Regions from separate parts of the Homo sapiens genome. Here region 2 is linked to region 1. The links come from fine-mapping of genetic effects on plasma protein levels. A gene starts in region 1. The other region holds a variant in brackets. All regions are shown on one strand. Distances are between the middles of the regions.

Region 1 (9,320 bases):
AAGATAAGGAGCTCCATTTACCACTGCTACATATGGATAGGATTCCTCAGAGTCCAGGCCTCCGTTCTCCTTGACATACTGGAAGGCCCTAGCCATGAAGCCACCATTGCAGCCCTGATTGCCTTGAGGACGCGAACAGTCCACCAGATTCTGCTCGCTCAGTGAGACAAGTTTCCCAGTTTTCCGGAACATCTGTCCTTCAAGAGCACCAGTCGCACTAAAAGCCCAACAAGAACCACACTGTTTCTAAAAAGGGAGAAAAAAAAAGCTGTAAATTTACAAGACCAATACAAATACAGTACCCCATAATTGAATTACCTTAATATTCTTTAAAAAAAAAAAAAACCCATCGCCACACTTTGGGAGGCCGAGGCGGGCAGATCACTTGAGGAGAGGAGTTTGAAATCCGCCTGGCCAACATGGTGAAACCCTGTCGCTACTAAAAATACACAAAAATTAGCTGGGCATGGTGGTGAGCACTTGCAATCCCAGCTACTCGGGAGGTGGAGGCAGGAGAATCTCTTGAACCCAGGAGGCAGAGGTTGCAGTGAGACGAGATCACGCCATTGCAATCCAGCCTGGGCAACAAGAGCTAAACTCCGTCTCAAACAAGCAAACAAAAAAAACACCAAAAACCAAAAATACAAAAAACCCATCACCATATGTTGTGCCACCATCTACCACAGCAATGACACCAATTCCTTCTTGGCTTTCCTGTGGAGACAGGGTCTGAATCTGACGCTGTCTCACCTGATTCTTCACTGGCGTCACGTAGCCTTTCTTTCTCCAATCCACAGATTTGGGAAGATCAAGAAACAGAGGCTCACGGAACACTTTCCCCTTCCTGAATTTCTGGTTTCGAAAGCAACCCATCATCTGCCTGAATTCTTCATTGGTCTTCAAGGAGAAGTAAATAAAATGTTAAAAGCAAGACTATTTTGGTGAAGAACTGAGAAGCAGCACAGAGTTCAGCAATCCTTGCCACACTCACCATGTCACCAAAAGCATTCATGGCCATTGTGAAGCCATGTTTCCCTTGGCTGTATTCCCCATTGTGCAGTTCAATCATTTTCATATTCTTTTCCCACACTGCTCTCCTCCATCCTTCTTCATTCTAGAGGCAAACATATAGCTGGTGGACTTTATGTCTACTTACCCAACCCATGTTCACCAAGCCGATTTGCGGGCAGAAATGGAAGAGAAACCATGGCCAGGGATGGGTTGATACTTCTCTGGGAGCTGTTCTCCAAGCCAAGACACAATGGAGATATATGCCCATATTGCACCTATAATGGGTGCTGTTAGGTTATTGCCTGGTAAGGTCTGGTGTCTAGAAGCTACTCTCTGGCTATCAACTCCCAACAGCGAGGACCATTCTCTCCAGAGTCCCTCTGGACAGTTTCAGATGTTACCAACCGCGCCATATAATCTTCTGTGTGTTGCCTTCCACTGGTACCACTTTGTATCCAAATTTTGGTCAAATTTTGGAACAGCGGAGGCTATTCCCAAGCAAAAGGCAGCCAGGACGAGCGAAAGATTCATGTTTCAAAACCTAGAAAGAGAAAAGAAATGAGTATCTGATTAGACCAATCCTAAAAAGCCATCTTACAGCCCCCGTGGAATAGAAATATTTCAATTATTCTCCCTAGCATTTCCCCAAGGACTGTGGAAGAGGCTGAAACAGGCCAAGTGGAGGTATTTGATGGGCCCACCAAAATTAAAAGCAGCCTGCAGAGTTGGAGGCGTTGAAACAGCATATGCGATAATTTAGGGTATGAGAAGGGTGTGAAAGATACCTGACGGGTGAGAAGCTTAAGGCAACAACTAGAAAACTAGGAAAGAGTTGGTCCAGGTTTTGCACCAATTGTACTGAGGTCATCCAGGCAAAACCTCACTAATGAAGACGTACCATCCCAAGTAGATGCAAGCGGATCCCCAAGGAACACCACCTCACACCTTCTTGGCTGATACACAGCAGGAGATGAGCTATGTCTTCCAACCTCTCCTTTTGGAATAAAACCTTTCGGGAATCCCTTTCCAGGAGACACTGGGAAGGAGAGCACCCACTATTCCCGCCGTCCCACACTTGGGTCTGTGCTACTCGCTCCCCTAAACCGGGGCAGGGTCACAAGGCCGCGCCGCTGGAAGCCAGGGGCCCCAGGGCCAGGGCCCGGACCGAGGCAGGCAGCTCCCGGAGCTCCGGGCGGGCCAGGACCGGGGCCGCACCGCCTGCTCTCGCCCTCTGCACGCGCCGCCGCGCCCCGAGAATGTTTGCGGCGGTGCAGGGAGCGGGGGCTCCGCGGCCAGGCTGGGGGCATGAAGCCGCCCGGTCCGGTCCGGCTTCAGCCCACAGGATGACTGACCTGCCCCGCCCGGGCCCTCCCAGTGGTGCCGGCGCCTCCCTGGGGTCTCCAACCGCCCTCCCCCGTTCCCCACCTCGAGGCTGGCAGAGCTCCGGGCAGAAGCTCTCACTCCCAGAAGCGCCCGCCTCCTCTCAGTGTCCCTAAAGGGGGGTTCCCTCCTCCAGTCCCCCTTCGCCCTGTCCCTCGGTCTGGTCGGGGGCGCTCACCAGCAGCCGTCGCAGCTGCGCAGGCACCCTCAGCAAACAAGCCTCTGAGATTACAGACGTCCGCGGTCTGGTGCAGGTTCGCCCGCCTCGGGATTTAAGTTTCCAGGCGGCCTTCCCCGCCCCCACCGCCTTCCCGCGCTGCGATTGGCTGTGCCGGCCACTGGGCGGGGCCCCGGGCGCTTAGAGCCCGCGCGTGACGCAGCCCAGTCCCAACCCGTCTCAGGTCTGGGCGCGCCTACCTCAATACACCCTGGCTGCGGGAAGCTGGGCCGGGCGCCCGGGGGCTGCGCGGAGGAGGGGGAGGCGCCTCCCTCAAGGGCTCAGATCTACTGACTATCCCGACTTACTGCGCTGAGCGGGTGGTTTACAGCGAGCTCTGTGTGGTATTTCAGTCCCTACTTTAACTTAGTCCTAGAGTTTTTGGTGAAAATCTGCAGGGCCGGGAGCCAGGGTACTCTCGTTCAGTGGCTCCTGTTTAGTCCACGGCAAAGGTGGGACGGAGTGGAAGAACGCACAGCCCCCAGCAGAAGCATTACCTTCCACTTAAGGGTGGGTGCATCAGGGCTTTAGAAGAATCTGGTAAGGAAAGGCACTCCCAAAACACGGGATGGATGGTCGAGACCGGACACCAGGAGGGACGGGACTAGCTGATAGGGTGTCCAGAGACCGCGGAGCGTTTTGTGGTGCGTCCTTCCCAGTCTGTTGCATTCAGGAATTCTTCCTTCTCCCATGTCTTTCAATACCAAAAAAAAAAAAAAAAAAAAAAAAAAGAGTTACAGAAATATTTGGTTAATAAAAAAGAGAAAAGCGTTGAGAATGGTGAAATAAATTGCTTTAAAAATTTTTCTTTTGTAGAAATGGAGTTTGGCTAAGTTTCCTTAGGCTGCTCTTGAATTCCTGGCCTCAAGCGATCCTCCCCTCTCAGCCTCCCAAAAGTGGTGGGATTACAGGCGTGAGCCACTACGCCCAGTCTGAGAGTGGTGGAAATTGCTTTTACTTACCTACTCTCTGCTTATGGGTTACAACGTCTCTTCCTCAGTATTCAAAGTGTGCTTCTTTTGAGATTTAATAAATTTACTTTAAAAATGTTTAATACCGGCCGGGCGCGGTGGCTTACACCTGTAATCCCAGCACTTTGGGAGGCCGAGGCGGGCGGATCACGAGGTCATGATATCGAGACCATCCTGGCCAACATGGTGAAACCCTGTCTCTACTAAAAATGCAAAAATTAGCTGGGCGTGGTGGCGGGCGCCTGTAGTCCCAGCTACTCAGGAGGCTGAGGCAGGAGAATTGCTTGAACCCGAGAGGCGGAGGTTGCAGTGAGCTGAGATCGTGCCACTGCACTCCAGACTGGTGACAGAGCGAAACTCTGTCTCAAAAAATAAAAATAAAAATAAAAATATATAATATCAGGGTTGAGGTGATGCAGTTTGAGGAACTGCTCTTTATGGAGAAATATATGTAGCTAAAGATTTAAGGAAATCATTAATAATTCAGAAACGTTTCTAATTCTTTTTAAAGTTATATAAAAAAATCCATTATAAAAAATATGTTTTAGAAAATAAACGTCCCTTGTGCCCTCTCCATAACCCTTTTCTAGGCATATCTTTTTTTGTTTTTACAAAAATGAAGTTATAATGCATATTGATTAATAAACTCTTAAAGATTAAATTGAATAATATCCACAGTTTTTACTTGTTAATTTGAAAATTTGTGAAATCAAGTTTAGCCTAAAGCTGCCTCCCCATGTGATTTAAGTTTGGCCTAAAGGTTTCTCTGTACATAGCGAATTGTAATCTAAATGGAGGTGTAAACAGACTGTAGCCTGCTCTTGTGCCTATCCCCGAATTTCTGTAAATCAAAGAGGTTCAGTTGTTCAAACCATGTTCAAATAAGGCAAACATGGAGCTGTATCCAATCCTGCAGTTTCTGTGCCTCACTTGCCCTTTTCTGTCTATAAATCTTCCCCCATGTGGCTGCACTGGAGTCTCTCTGAGCCTACTCTGGCACTGGAGGCTGCCAGATTCACGAATTGTTTTTTGCTCAATTAAATTCTCTTAAATTTAATTTGGCTATGGATTTTCTTTTAACAAATTAAAAACAATTAAACTGACAACTTTTCAGAAGCACCATCAGGCAAATACATCTTTTTAAAAATCAATTTATTAATAATTATATGTCCTTCCTTTAAATAAATAGCAGCTTTTCCCTCTCAAATACAACTAGGGGCCAAAGCTGTCAGGTGGTTATATAAAAAATACAAAAGTATATTGTATTGCAGGCCAAGGTAGGTGGATCTCCTGAGCCTGGGAGTTTGAGACCAGCCTGGGCAACATGGCGAAATCACACCTCTACCAAAAATACAAAACAAACAAACAAAAATTAGCCAGGCATGGTGATGCATGCCTGTAGTCCCAACTACTTGGGAGACTGAGGTTGTAGTGAGCGGAGCAGAGCATGCGCCACTGCACTCCAACCTGGGTGACAGAGCGAGATGCCGTCCCAAAAAAAAAAAAAAAAAAAAAAAAGCATCTTGTACTTGTACTGCAAATTTGCCGTCTCAAAAAAAAAAAAAAAGCATCTTGTACTGCAAATAGCTGTTTTTTTTCTTTTTTAAAAATTAATCATTGTGTTGAACACAATCATCATTCACATGTGGAAATAAATGAAGACCACCACCTAAGAACAAACAGAGGCCATATATTCAGAACTTGCTATAACAAAGGAGATAATTCAAAGACGAGGGAGAAGAAAAGCTTTAGGGGAAAAAGGGGGCAACTTCAGCTATGTCCTCTTTGCAGAGTGTCGTCATGGAGAAGCTGAAGGAGGGATAACTAGAGATGGAGCGTCTTATGTGATTTGTTTGTGGAGTATATTTGGTTTTTCTGGTTTGTCCTGGGTTGGAAGCAGAGGCAAAAATGAGGAAGCTGTCAGCCACTGAGTAAGTCCTGACTGTTCTGAGTTGGTCTCTGCAGATATTATGCTTCATTTCTTCTGTGGGTCAGAGTTCTATTGCCATATACTATGGCCATTGTCTATTTGTTTACTCAGTCTATCACAAGAAAGCTAAGTTATTCTAACACGTGGGTTTTACAGTTGCCCTTGGGCCACAGCTCCCTAAGATTGTAGGGTGGAGAAACCTGCCAGGCCATTAAGATCTGTGCCTTAAGCAATAGCCTGACAGCAGATGAGTGGCAGGTGCTGCCCTGAAGAATGGCATCCCCTTTGTTTTTTGGAATGTGAGACAAAAGTAGTGGAGAAAACATAGACCCTTTTCAAACCAAGTGTGCCCCAAATCTAAAATTATACCAGAAATATGTAAATGCAGAAGAAATATGGGAGAAAGCCAATAAGCAAGAGGGTGGAAGACGTTATTGCTCCAACTTAGGACACCTATTTATATCTATTTATACACATCTGTAAAAAAATGCATTACAGAAATGTGGTATTACTAGCCAGGACAGTTGTATTTAAATATTTGTTTCTTTCCCTACTCTTCTATTCCTATTTCTTTGCAAAATAATTTTGATGAGTGATAATTTTTAGAACAGTCACATGTTAGTGAAGCAACCAAGCCTTGGTTATGCCTTTAATAAAATGGAGTTGGCAGAACTTCCTGATTCCTATTTAAAACGCAGTGCCTGTGAAAGTATATTCTCACGTGCATCTGTGTAGCTTTCTTTTACTCACTATTAAAAGAGGATATAGGCCAGCCATGGTGGCTCACGTCTGTAATCCTAGCACTTTGGGAGGCTGAAGTGGGTGGATTACTTGAGGTCAGGAGTTTGAAACAAGCCTGGCCAACATAGTGAAACCCTGTCTCTACTAAAAATACAAAAAAAGTTAGGCAGGTGTGGTGGTGCATGCCTGTAGTCCCAGCTACTTGGGAGGCTGAGGCAGGAGAATCGCGGAGAGGTGGAGGTTGCAGTGAGCCGAGATTGCGCCATTGCACTCTAGCCTGGGCAACAGAGTGAGACTCTGTCTCAAAAATAAATAAATAAATAAAAGAGGATGTGATTCTTTACCCAGTCTCCGGAAATTTTAAACCATAGGGGAACTGGCAAACTTAGTGTGGTGGCATTCAAGACCCTGACATCACTTAACACCTCTCCCCAGTATAATAACCCCCTCCGATTTGTTTAAATTCACTGAGCCAAGAATTACTCTTAAGAAGCATTATCCAGCAAACTGTCCACTTGCAAAATGGTTTGTCACCATTGATAATCGTATAGCAAACAGCCTGTTTATGATTTGAGGTTCATATAAAACCACTTATGAAATAACTACTTTTCTTGGTTACTGTAACTGTGCTTTTCCTGTAGAGTTAAACTATCAGCCAATTCATCAAGCACGTAAATCAATCAATGAGAATTCAGCTCTTACTCGGTACCAGTTCTCCTCTTCTGGTGTAGCATGAGCATTCACTTCCACATTCTTAGCTTTCCTAACAGCTTTCTGAGGTTCAGCCTTTCCATATTTAAATATGTGGTTCACTACAGTAATTTCAGTTCTATAGCAAATTGAACAGGACAGATATATTTAAATGGAACTATGGTGAAGCATCTTTGTATAGCAAGTAACAAGGAAACCAATTCACAAGAGAAATGGTGGAATTTCTCCCCTCCTCTAAAACAGTAATCCACAAACTCTCAGCCAAATCTGAAAAATTCTTCAAACCTCAAAAAGTCCTTTCAAGAAACAAGGTGTATTCGTTTCCTGTGTCTGCTATAACAAATCCCCACAAACTTGGTGGCTTGAAACAGGAGTCCTTTATTCCCTCACAGTTATGGAGGCCAGAAGTCCTAAACAGGCATCATTGGGCTAAAGACCAGGTGTGATAGGGCTCCCTCCCTTCCTCCCTCCTGAGGTTCTAGGGGAGAATCTGTGCCTTGCCTGTCCCAGCACTGGTGGTTGCTCGCATTCCTTGACTTGTGGCCACATCACTCTAATCTCTGTGACTACATTGCTATCTCTTCTGTCTGTGTCTAATCTCCCTCCCTCTTATAAAGACCCTGTGATTGCATTTAGGGCTTATTCAGGTAACCCAGGATAACCGTTCCATTTCAGAACTATTCATGGAATCACATTTACAAAGTCTTTGCTGTTTAAGATAACAGCTTCAGGGGCCAGGAATTAAGACCTGTTGTCAGTGGGGGCTATAAACATCCTGGTACACGTGGCAAAATTAAAATCAGTTTCTTGACAATGCTGATAAAAACTTTGTGTTTATTATAACTTGAGGCTGGCCAGGCGCGATGGCTCATGCCTGTAATCCCAACACTTTGGGAGGCTGACGCAGGCAGATCACTTGAGGTCAGGAGTTTGAGACCAGCCTGGCCAACATGGTGAAAACCCATCTCTACTCAAAACACAAAAATTAGCTGGGCTTAGTGGCGGGCGCCTGTAATCCCAGCTACTTGGGAGGCTGAGGTAGGAGGATTGCTTGAACCCTGGAGGCGGAGGTTGCAGTGAGCCGAGATCATGCCACTGCACTCCAGCCTGGGTAACAGAGTGAGACTCTGTCTCAAAAAATAAAATAAAATTAAATTAAAAAATAAAAATAAAATAAAATAAAATAAAATAACTTAAGGCTGGCTTGACTAAGAGAGTTGGACCCTACACTCCCTGGGAACTTCCCACACTGTGACTTTTTTGCTCCATCTCAGCCTCAGATCCCTGCCTCATGTACCTGAGTACTGGCAACATTTTCTGCCTTGTGTTTCCCTTGCAATGCTTGACACGGCCTTTTAAGTTTCAAGACCCTGGCCAGGCCTAGTGATTGGCTCATGTCTCTAATCCCAGCGCTTTGGAAGGCGGAGGCGGGAGGATTGCTTGAGCTCAGGAGTTCGAGATCAGCCTGGGCAACATAGGGAGAACTTGTCTCTACAAAAAATAAATAAAAATAGCCCAAGCTTGGCGGTGCGTGCGTATAGTCCCACCAACTCAGGAGGCTGAAGTGGGAGGATGGCTTGAGCCCAGGAGGTTGAGGGTGCAGTGAGCTATGACTGTACCACTGCACTCCAGCCTGGGCAACAGAGGGAGACCCTGTCTCAAAAAACAAAAAAGTTTCAAGATCCCCACACAGCAGCTTTTACAACCCCTCCTTATTCTTTTCACAGCCAGCTGTCCCATGGTCTCTGCATAAAAAAGCATTGCTTACCCACCCTTTTCCTGAGACACTTCTGGTTTCGGCTTTGAGCATCTCCTTGTTGCAATATCTTGTATTAATAAAGTCTTTCCTTACTAATGTAGGAACTTGCATTTTTTCCCCTTGACACCCCGTGTCACTTTAGTGAGTGGTGAAGACAGAGAAGGCTCTGTGCTGTGAGAGGCTCAGCTTGCAGATGCACCTGTCCTGGGGTTGCTCCAGAGGAAGAGCGTCTCTATCTGTGACTTCCTGGGTTTCCAATAGCTAAAGAATTCTTAGGTGTGAGCACTGTTCTGAGCATTTCACACGTGCTCCTGAGGTCATCTTCCCAACAACCCTATGATGCTCGTTCTCAAACACCAGCTTTATCAGAATCACCCAGAGGCTCCTGAAAGCTCAGGTTGCTGAACATATCCCCCAGTTTCTGATTCAGTAGGTCTGGGACGGGGTTCCAGAATTTGCTTTCTAAAAACTTGCCAAGGTGGGCTGGGCGCAGTGACTCATGCCTGTAATCCCAGCACTTTGGGAGCCCGAGGTGGGCGGATCACTGAGGTCAGGAGCTCCAGACCAGCCTGGCCAACATGGCAAAACCCTGTCTCTGCT
Region 2 (9,483 bases), 85 kb after region 1:
ATAGGTTCATATTGAGATCCATTGAAGGCCCTCCCGGACTGACGAAGGCGTGACCTCAGGCCCACGGCATCCAAGAACACGAAGCATGAGGGACAGAAGAGGGCCCCTCGGCACCTGCCTGGCACAAGTGCAGTGGGCCGGAGGAGGTGACTCGGACAAACTGTCATACAGCCTTAAGCAAAGAATGCCGATGGAGGGCCCTTGGCCTGCAGATGCACCCTCCTGGATGAATAAGCCTGCGGCTGATGGAAATTCAGAGTGAGGCATTATCACTGGAAATGAGAAAGGATCCGAGCAGGGCTGGCCTCTCGCTTCCCAGTGGCGGCCCAGTTCTTCCATATGTGAAAGAATCAGTAAGAAGAAATCCAGCCTCAGCAGCCACTCCGAGCGCAGCCGTGGGTTTGTTCCCTGCTCCAACAGAGTATTTTGCTCGGGTGTCCTGCAGTGGTGTTGAAGCTCTGGGGCGGGACTGGCTGGGAGGAGGGCCCAGGGCCACCCACGGCCACAGAGGACAGTGCCCCAAAGGAGAGCCTCAGGTGTCACGACTGCCATGCCATCAAAAACTGCCGGAAATGGGAAGTTTTCAGGATGACCCACCAAGTGCTTTTCCCAAGGGTCTGCGCTCTGAGTTGGAACCCTCTTGCCTGCATTCCATCCTGTCTGCAACACTGCAGGCGTGTCCCGAAGAGCTCCTGAATGACGAGACAAAACGCATTTTCCTTGACCGTTTAAACCCCATGTTTTCAAAGCAAACAATAGAATTCAAAAAAATGCTTAAAAGTACCTCAGATGGTCTGCAGATAACACTGGGGTTACTGGCTCTGCAACATTTTGAATTAGCAAATTCATTATGCCATAGTTAAGGTACAAGCAGAACAATACAAGTAGATTAATTTTAAGAGTTGTCTTAGAATGATTAAGGTGTGGTTTGTACGACCTGGCAGACTTAGTTGAGTTTAAATTCAAAACTGGTGGATGCGGAAGGAAATTTTTTAGCATATGTTAAATTGTGCTTTAAAAGACATATAAAGAATTGGGAAACATTTCAGGAGACGATCATAGCCTGTATAAATATCAGATTAGAACATACGGATTTACGATGAAGTTCTGTCTTCAACACCCAGCATTGTCTAAAGGGCTACTGTCCCAAATCCTGTGTGTCCCTTCAGCTTGTCTGATCACCCAACGGAAGTGGATACTTGTAAAGTCTACACCGCTGTACTTGGCGTTAAATCTTGCTGAATTTGTGGTAAGCTATTATCATTTCTACATTTTGTAGAATGATTTTGGTCTGCAGCAAAATTCTATTTCACTTCTTACACCCCTTTCCTTCCACTTGAAATGCAATTTAGACAGAGGCCCTGTGGTGAAAGTTGCAATATTAAGCTTACCTTTAGAAGATCCCTTCTCAAACTCAGAACCCTAGCAGCGTTACCTTAAAAATGAGCTCGAGAGGCCGGGCGCGGTGGCTCACACCTGTAATCCCAGCACTTTGGGAGGCTGAGGCAGGCAGATCACAAGGTCAGGAGATCGACACCATCCTGGCTAACACGGTGAAACCCCGTCTCTACTAAAAAAAAATACAAAAAATTAGCCGGGCGTGGTGGGGGCGCCTGCAGTCCCAGCTACTCGGGAGGCTGAGGCAGGAGAATGGCGTGAACCCATAAGGTGGAGCTTGCCGTGAGCCGAGATGGCGCCACCGTACTCCAGCCTGGGCGACAGAGCGAGACTGTCTCAAAAAAAAAAATGAGCTCGAGAAAAAAGTAGCTCAGTTACAGAGAAGCAAATCAAGTTATTTCCCAGATAAAAAGTTTCCCAGATTCTAGGAATTGCAGTATCTTGTACCCTAAAATTTTTCCAGGTGACTCCTTTTGTTGTCTGTTGATAACTTTAATAAAGGTCATTTAAGGGCATAAGGTTTTAAAGACTCCCAAAGTGAGACTTAACCATTTTCGGGATTAGCGATTGCATATATCAGTTTATGTTGTGTGCTTAATTACTATGCCATGTGCTATTTTAGTGTTTGGGGAAAATGAAAAATAAAATTTGTTCTTTGGATTAATAAATATGTCTTAATAAAAAATACAGTGAATGACAATGAAAATGCAACACATCAACATTTGTGGGTATGTATAAAGCAGGGTGAGAGGGAAATTCATAGAACTAAATGCATAAATTAGATGATAAGAAAATTATCAAGCCAATAATTTAAGCTCCCACTTGAAGTA[C/T]GTAGAAAATAAGAGAAAAAAAAACCACTCAAAATAAGAAGGAAGGAAATAATGACTATAATAGCAGAAATCAATGAAATTTAAAACAGAAAAACAATAAAGAAAACCAATGAAACAAAGAGCTGGTTCTTTAAAAAGATCTATAAAATTCACAAACATCTACCAAGAGTGACAAAGCAAAAAGGAGAGAATTATAGATTAGAAATATTAGGCATGACACAGAAGGTATCACTAAAGACCTTGTAGATGTTGAAAGGATAATAAATGAATACTACAAACAACTCTAAACACATACATTTGGCAACTTAAATGAAATAGACCACTTTCTTGAAAAGCATAAACTACCACAACTTATCAATATAAAACAAATAATGCAAATAGCCCCACATAAGATCTCCAGGCTCAGATGGTTTCACTGGAAAATTCTGCCCAAAGTTTAAAGAATAATAGATACCAATTCTGTATATCCTCTTCCAGAGAAAAGAAAGACAGCGGAATACTTCTCAAGTGATTTTATTTATTTATCTCATTTATTATTTTTACCATTATCAGAATAATCACATTTATTTACTTCCTGTCTTATTCCACCATTTGTATGTAAATTCCATGGGTAAGGGCCTGCTCTTACGTCCCACACCTCTAGGTCTACAGAGCCTAGAGACAAAGGTGTGAGGAAAGCACTCCGTGACCCTCCCTGGCCAGGCCACATGAGTTCTGGATCTGAATTTAGAGCCACAGACTTTAAGCACTAAAATAAACCTGAGGTTTTCCAGAGGCGTTTAACTTTCTCCTTTAATAGACAAGAATGCACCTAAGAATGGAGAGTGGCTTCCTGCAGTAACCCAGCCACTCAATAGAGACTAAGCCCACAATGACCTGAGTCAAAAAGTCTGCAACCTTTTCCCCCCAAATCCCACCTTCTCCTTCTCTCAACTCATTTTTAAAAGCTAGTATTACCTTGATACCAAAAACAAAGACAGTTAAAAAAAACAAAACAAAACAGGAACTACAGACCAATATCCCTCATAAATATAGACACAGAATTAAGCAATATGTAAAAAGAACTATATGCTATGAGCAAGTGCAGTTTATTCCTGGAAAGCAAGGCTTGTTCCATATGTGAAAATCAATGTAACCTACCATATTAACATGATGAAGAAGAGAATCACATAATCGTATCAATTGATGCAGAAAAATCATTTGACAAAATGCATGATAAAAACTCTGAGAAATCCCAGGTGTGGTGGCTCACACCTGTAATCCCAGCACTTTGGGAGGTGAGGCGGGTAGATCACATCAGGCCAGGAGTTTGAGACCTGCCTGGCCAACATGGCGATACCCTGTCTCTACTAAAAATACAAAAAAATTAGCCAGGTGTGGTGATGCATGCTAGCTACTTGGGAGGCTGAGGCATGAGAATCACTTGCACTTGGGAGGTGGAGGTTGCACTGAGCTGAGATTGAGCCACTGCACTCCAGCCTGGGTGACAGAGTGAGACTCTGTCTGAAAAAAATAAAATAAAAATAAAAACTCTGAGAAAAATAACAATAGAGAGGAACTTCCTCAATTTGATAAAGAGCTTTTACAAAACCTCCAACACTTAACATTATACTTAATGGTCAAAGAAAGAATGCTTTTCTCCTAAGAAAGGGAATAAGGCAAAGATATATGCTCTTACTACTCTAATTCAATACAGCACAGGAAGTTTTAGCCAGTTCAGTAAAGCATTTAAAAAAAGGCATATTGATTGGAAAGGAAGAAATAAAACTGTTCACTTTTGCAGATAACATGATGGCTATGTGGAAAATCCAAAGAAATCTATTTTAAAACACCAAAATCAACAACTCCTAGAACTAGTAAGTGAATTCAGCAAGGCTACAGGATACGACATAAATATACAAAAAAATCAAGTGTACTTTGAGTGATGAACGCTTGGATATAAAAATTAAAAATACAATAAGTACCATTTATAATTGCTCAGAAAAGGAAATACTCATTTCAAATTCTAACAAAACATTCATAAGACTTGAATGCTAAACATTAGAAATTCTGATGAAAGAAATCAAAGATCTAAACAAATGATGAGACACATCATGTTCTTCAATTTGGAGACTCAAAATAGCAAAGATGTTAATTCTCCCCAAACTCATATATACAATTCCTACAAAAATTTCAGCAATATTTCTTGTAGATGAATACAAGATTATTTTAAAATTGTCTTGGAGATGCAAAGGAACTAAAATAGCTAAAACATTTTTGAAAAAGAATTACCAAGTTGGAAGAATCAATCTATCCCATTACAAGACTTATTGTGTAGCTATTGTAATCAACAGCACGTGATATTGGTAGAGTGAAAGATACACAGACAAATTAAACAGAACAGAGAACTCAGACCCACATAAATATAACTGACAGGTTATTGACAAAAGCATAAAAGTAATTCAGTGTGGGGAAAGGAAGTTTTTTCAACAAATATTGCTGGAGCATTTGCATATCCATAAGCAAAGTTGAATGGTGACATGAACCTAACACTCCATACATGAATTAATTCAAAATAGACCACGGACTTAAATGTAAAACTACAAATCTTTTAGAAAAATACATTAAAACCCTTCAGGACCTAGGGCCAGGCAAAGAATATTTTAAACTTTACAACAAAAGCATCATCAATAAAACCAAAAATAGATAAACCGGACGCTATCAAAATTAAAGAAAAAAATTTTGTTCTGTGAATGACCTTGCTAAGAGTATGAAAAAACAAACTACCAACTAGGACAAAATGTTTTGAAAGCATATAGCAGACAAAGGATTAGTATCTAAATTACATAAAGAACTCTTAAAACTCAATAGCAAAACAAACAAACAGAAAATGGGCAAATGATATGAACACGCATTTCACCAAAAAGCACAGACAGATGTCAAATAAGCACAAGGAAGGACATTTAACATCATTTGCTATTATGAAAATAAAAATTAAAATTATGATGAGCTATTACTATACACATATGACAATGGTTAAATAAAAAATAGTGACAACTCCAAATGCTAGTGAGGATGAAGGGAAACTCTTTCCCTTATTTACTATTAATGGGAATGTAAAATGGTACAGCCACTCTGGAAAAAAGTTAGGCAATTAAAAAAAAATGAAACTGGCAGTGCCATACAACTCAGCAACTGCATCCTTGGGCATTTGTCCCAGAGAAATGAAGACTTGTGTTCACACAAAAACCTGCACATAAATGTTTAGAGCAAGTTTATTTGTAGTGGCCCCAACTGGAAACAACCTACATGTCCTTTAGTTCGTGAACAATTAAACAGTCTGTGGTACATCCATAGCATAGAATACTATTCAGCAATAAAAAGGAATACACTATTGATATGCACAACATCCTGGATGAATCTTCAGAGAATTACAGAGTGAAAAAAGCCAATGCCAAAAGGATACACAATGCATAATTCTGTTGATATAATATTCTTGACATGACAAAACTATAGAAATGGAGAACAGATTCAGTGGTTGTCAGAGATGAAGGAGGGCCTGGGGGCAGGAGGGAAGTGGGTGTAGCTAGAAAAGGAAAACTTGAGGGGGCTTTTACAGTGAAGGCAATGCATTTTGACTGCATCAATGCTAATATCCTGGTTGTGATATTGCAATATAGCTTTGCAAGATATTATTGTTGGGAGAAACTGAGTAACTGGAATGCAGATCTGTGTAAATAATATTCTTAAAATTGTTTGTGAATCTGCAATTATCTTAAAATTAAAATTTTAATTAACAATACATATGTTCTACCTCTATCCACTGAATATTCTAGGAGACAAAAATCTAGTAGCAACAAGCATTCCTGTTGTCTACATTGTGGACTCTAAATGTTATCTCCATCTAAAAGGAACTAGAGATCCTTAGAGAAATGGTTGGTTCTCTATCTGGGGCAGGAAATGTACCAGATGAGCCTGCAGCATCTTATTATAAACAGATGCCAAGAAGCCATCAAGGACTACTGGGCACATGTCTAAAGGGTCCAGACACCAACGTGAAGAGGCTCTCACTGGCCAGATATGGGATAATTTGAGCTGTAAAAATGATAATAACTGCAATGTTTTGAAACACATCAAATATTTGAAAAACTCAAGACTTTATAATGATATTAAGAAAGCTCATTAGGCTGGATGTGGTGGCTCACACCTGTAATCCCAGCACTTTGGGAGGCCAAGGCTGGAGGATTGCTTGAGGCCAGGAGTTTGAGACCAGACTGGGCAACATGGTGAGACTTTGACTCTACAAAAAATAAAAAAGTCAGCTGGGCATGGTGGCACATGCCTGTAATACCAGCTACTTGGCTGAGGTGGGAGGATAATTTGAGCCCAAAACTTCAAGGCTGCAGTGAGCAATAATTGCGCCACTGCACTCCAGCCTGGGCAACAGATCCAGACCCTGTCTCTAAAAAAAAAAAAGAGCCCCATTTGTTTCCTTTGGAGGATGCTAGGGAACCAACTGATTGCTATAATAATTGGTAAATGAAGGGAAAGAATCTTGATTCTTGATCCTCCATTTCCTGCACAAACAATACTGAAGATTCAGGTGACGAGGGGAAGCTGCTGCACATACAGTCACCTCTGCCCTAACTTCCATGCTTTGGCTGTTCAGTCTATCCTCAGCGCTTCAGGAGATGCTCCTGTTAAACAAAAGTCAGATCATGTGACTCCTCCACTCAAACCCGCCAATGGCATCCTGGTTCACTCATAACATGGACCCAAGCCCTTCCCTGAGCTAAAGGGTCAACACCATCTGTCCCCACTGCCTCCTAACATGGGCCCCTCCCTCACTCTCATCAGCCACCCTGGCCTCTTGCTCTTTCTCACACTCAGCACGTGCGGGCCCCAGGGCCTGTGTACTTGCAGAGCCTTTCCCAGATTCCCCTGCGGCTATGCCTTCCTCACTTACCCAGTGGTTGGCTCAAGGGTATCCTTATTGGAGAGGATTCCTGTTTTGTGTATCCACTTGTGGTCCCAAACCTCACATGGTTCCATCTGATTCTACAGGCCATGTGCTTCTCCACTAAGCTGCACTGTGTGAGGGACTAAGTGGAGGGCAAAAAGTCAAGGGGCTAAGTGGAGGGCAAAAAGAAGAAAAAGACATAGTCCCTGCCCTCCACAATCTTCAATTTATAGCAGAAAGCCGGGAACACACACACACACACACAGCCTGCTCAAAGTGAGTTTGCCCTGGAACATGTGGGAAGCTGGCCTAGTTCTGCACAAGAAGGGAACCCTGTATAAATGGACTTAGCGGAGAAGGTCATCCGAGAGGAAATGAGCCCTGTGCACTGAGCTCTGAAGAGCAGGAGGGCTGAGGTGGTGTGGGACTGAAAGTAAGATTATCTGGAATTATCTGGGTGGGTCCAATCTAATCCCAGAAGCCCTTAAAAGCAAAGAACTTAGCCTGGAAGCAGAAGACAGTTGCATGCATGTACTACAGTTTGGTTATGCACTTCCCAGTAGATGGACATTTGGGTTGCTTCTAGTTTGGGGCTGCTGTAAACACTTTTGTGCAAGGCTTTTTGTGGACATGTGTTTTCATTTCTGTAGATGCTGTGGTTAAGTGGAAGAGGTATGTATAAATGTTTTAAGAAACTTGCAAACAGTTTTCCAAAATGGTTGTATCACTTTACACCATACGGTAGTGTATGAGAGTTGCTGTTGCATTAGTAGTGATTAGCCTGTTTCATTTTAGCAATTCTGGTAGGTCAGGGGGCGATTTTGATCTGCACTTCCTTGATGATTAATGATGCTGGGCATCTTCTAATGTGCTGATCTGCCATATATCTTATTTTGTAAATTGTCAGTTCAAAGCTTTTATACATTTTAAAATTTGGATATTAGTCTTTTTATTATTGAATTGTAGCAACTTTTAGAAAATATATTCTTTTTTTTTTTTTTTTTTTTTATAGTATTTATTGATCATTCTTGGGTGTTTCTCGGAGAGGGGGATGTGGCAGGGTCATAGGATAATAGTGGAGAGAAGGTCAGCAGATAAACACGTGAACAAAGGACTCTGGTTTTCCTAGGCAGAGGTCCCTGCGGCCTTCTGCAGTGTTTGTGTCCCTGGGTACTTGAGATTAGGGAGTGGTGATGACTCTTAACGAGCATGCTGCCTTCAAGCATCTGTTTAACAAAGCACATCTTGCACCGCCCTTAATACATTTAACCCTGAGTTGACACAGCACATGTTTCAGAGAGCAGGAGGTTGGGGGTAAGGTTATAGATTAACAGCATCCCAAGGCAGAAGAGTTTTTCTTAGTACAGAACAAACTGGAGTCTCCTATGTCTACTTCTTTCTACACAGACACAGTAACAATCTGTTCTCTCTTTCTTTTCTCCACATTTCCCCCTTTTTTTTCTACAAAACCGCCATCGTCATCATGGCCCATTCTCGATGGTCGCTGTCTCTTCGGAGCTGTTGGGTACACCTCCCAGATGGGGCGGCCGGGCAGAGGCACTCCTCACTTCCCAGACGGGGCAGCCGGGCAGAGGTGCTCCTCCGGGCAGAGGCGCCCCTCACCTCCCAGACGGGGCGGCCGGGCAGAGGCGCCCCCCACATCCCAGACGGGGTGGCCGGGCAGAGGCGCTCCTCACCTCCCAGACGGGGCGGCCGGGCAGAGGCGCTCCTCCAGGCAGAGGTGCCCCTCACCTCCCAGACCGGGTGGTCGGGCAGAGGCGCCCCCCACCTCCCAGGAGGGGCGGCCGGGCAGAGGCGCCCCCCCCACCTCCCAGACGGGGCGGCCCGGCAGAGGTGCCCACCACCTCCCAGACGTGGCGGCCGGGCAGAGGCACTCCTCACCTCCTGGACAGGGCGGCCGGGCAGAGGTGCTCCTCACTTCCCAGACGGGGCGGCCAGACAGAGGCGCTCCTCACATCCCAGATGATGGGCAGCCAGGCAGAGATGCTCCTCACTTCCTAGATGGGGTGGCGGCCGGGCAGAGGCACTCCTCACTTCCCAGACGGGGTGGCCGGGCAGAGGCGCTCCTCACATCCCAGACAATGAGTGGCCAGGCAGAGACGCTCCTCACTTCCTAGATGGGGTGGCGGCCGGGAAGAGGCTGTAATCTTAGCACTTTGGGAGGCAAGGCAGGTGGCTGGGAGGTAGAGGTTGTAGCGAGCTGAGATCACGCCACTGCACTCCAGCCTGGGCAACATTGAGCATTGAGTGAGCATGACTCCGTCTGCAATCCCAGCACCTCGGGAGGCCGAGGCA

Direction of the effects. Alleles are on the strand shown, and positions count from the first base shown. The strength of an association depends on the size of the effect and on how common the allele is.
For the plasma level of the protein whose gene starts at base 2,641 in region 1, C is the low allele of the variant in region 2 and T is the other (weak association).

What was found. A credible set is the group of variants that fine-mapping cannot tell apart. PIP is the chance, under the fine-mapping model, that this variant and not a neighbour inherited with it causes the effect. The UK Biobank Pharma Proteomics Project read protein levels with antibody pairs (Olink). The fine-mapping took linkage between variants from a reference panel, not from the people measured, so its PIPs are less certain.
Region 2: its variant is the best candidate, but not a certain one, in a credible set for the plasma level of the CTSV protein (UK Biobank, PIP 0.53).

The regions. Positions count from the first base shown.
Region 1 is chr9:97,036,502-97,045,821 of GRCh38, forward strand. It overlaps CTSV (cathepsin V), which reads right to left and starts at 2,641. Exons shown (of 8, transcript NM_001333.4): 1 at 2,570-2,641; 2 at 1,417-1,552; 3 at 992-1,114; 4 at 751-897; 5 at 22-246. The coding sequence starts at 1,542. RefSeq lists a silencer at 2,676-2,985.
Region 2 is chr9:97,121,574-97,131,056 of GRCh38, forward strand. It overlaps LOC105376166 (a long non-coding RNA gene), which reads right to left and starts at 9,106. Exons shown (of 3, transcript XR_930154.3): 1 at 9,070-9,106; 2 at 7,174-7,309; 3 at 2,726-6,904. It also overlaps the pseudogene FAM220CP. The variant C/T (reference allele first, on the strand shown) is at 2,229.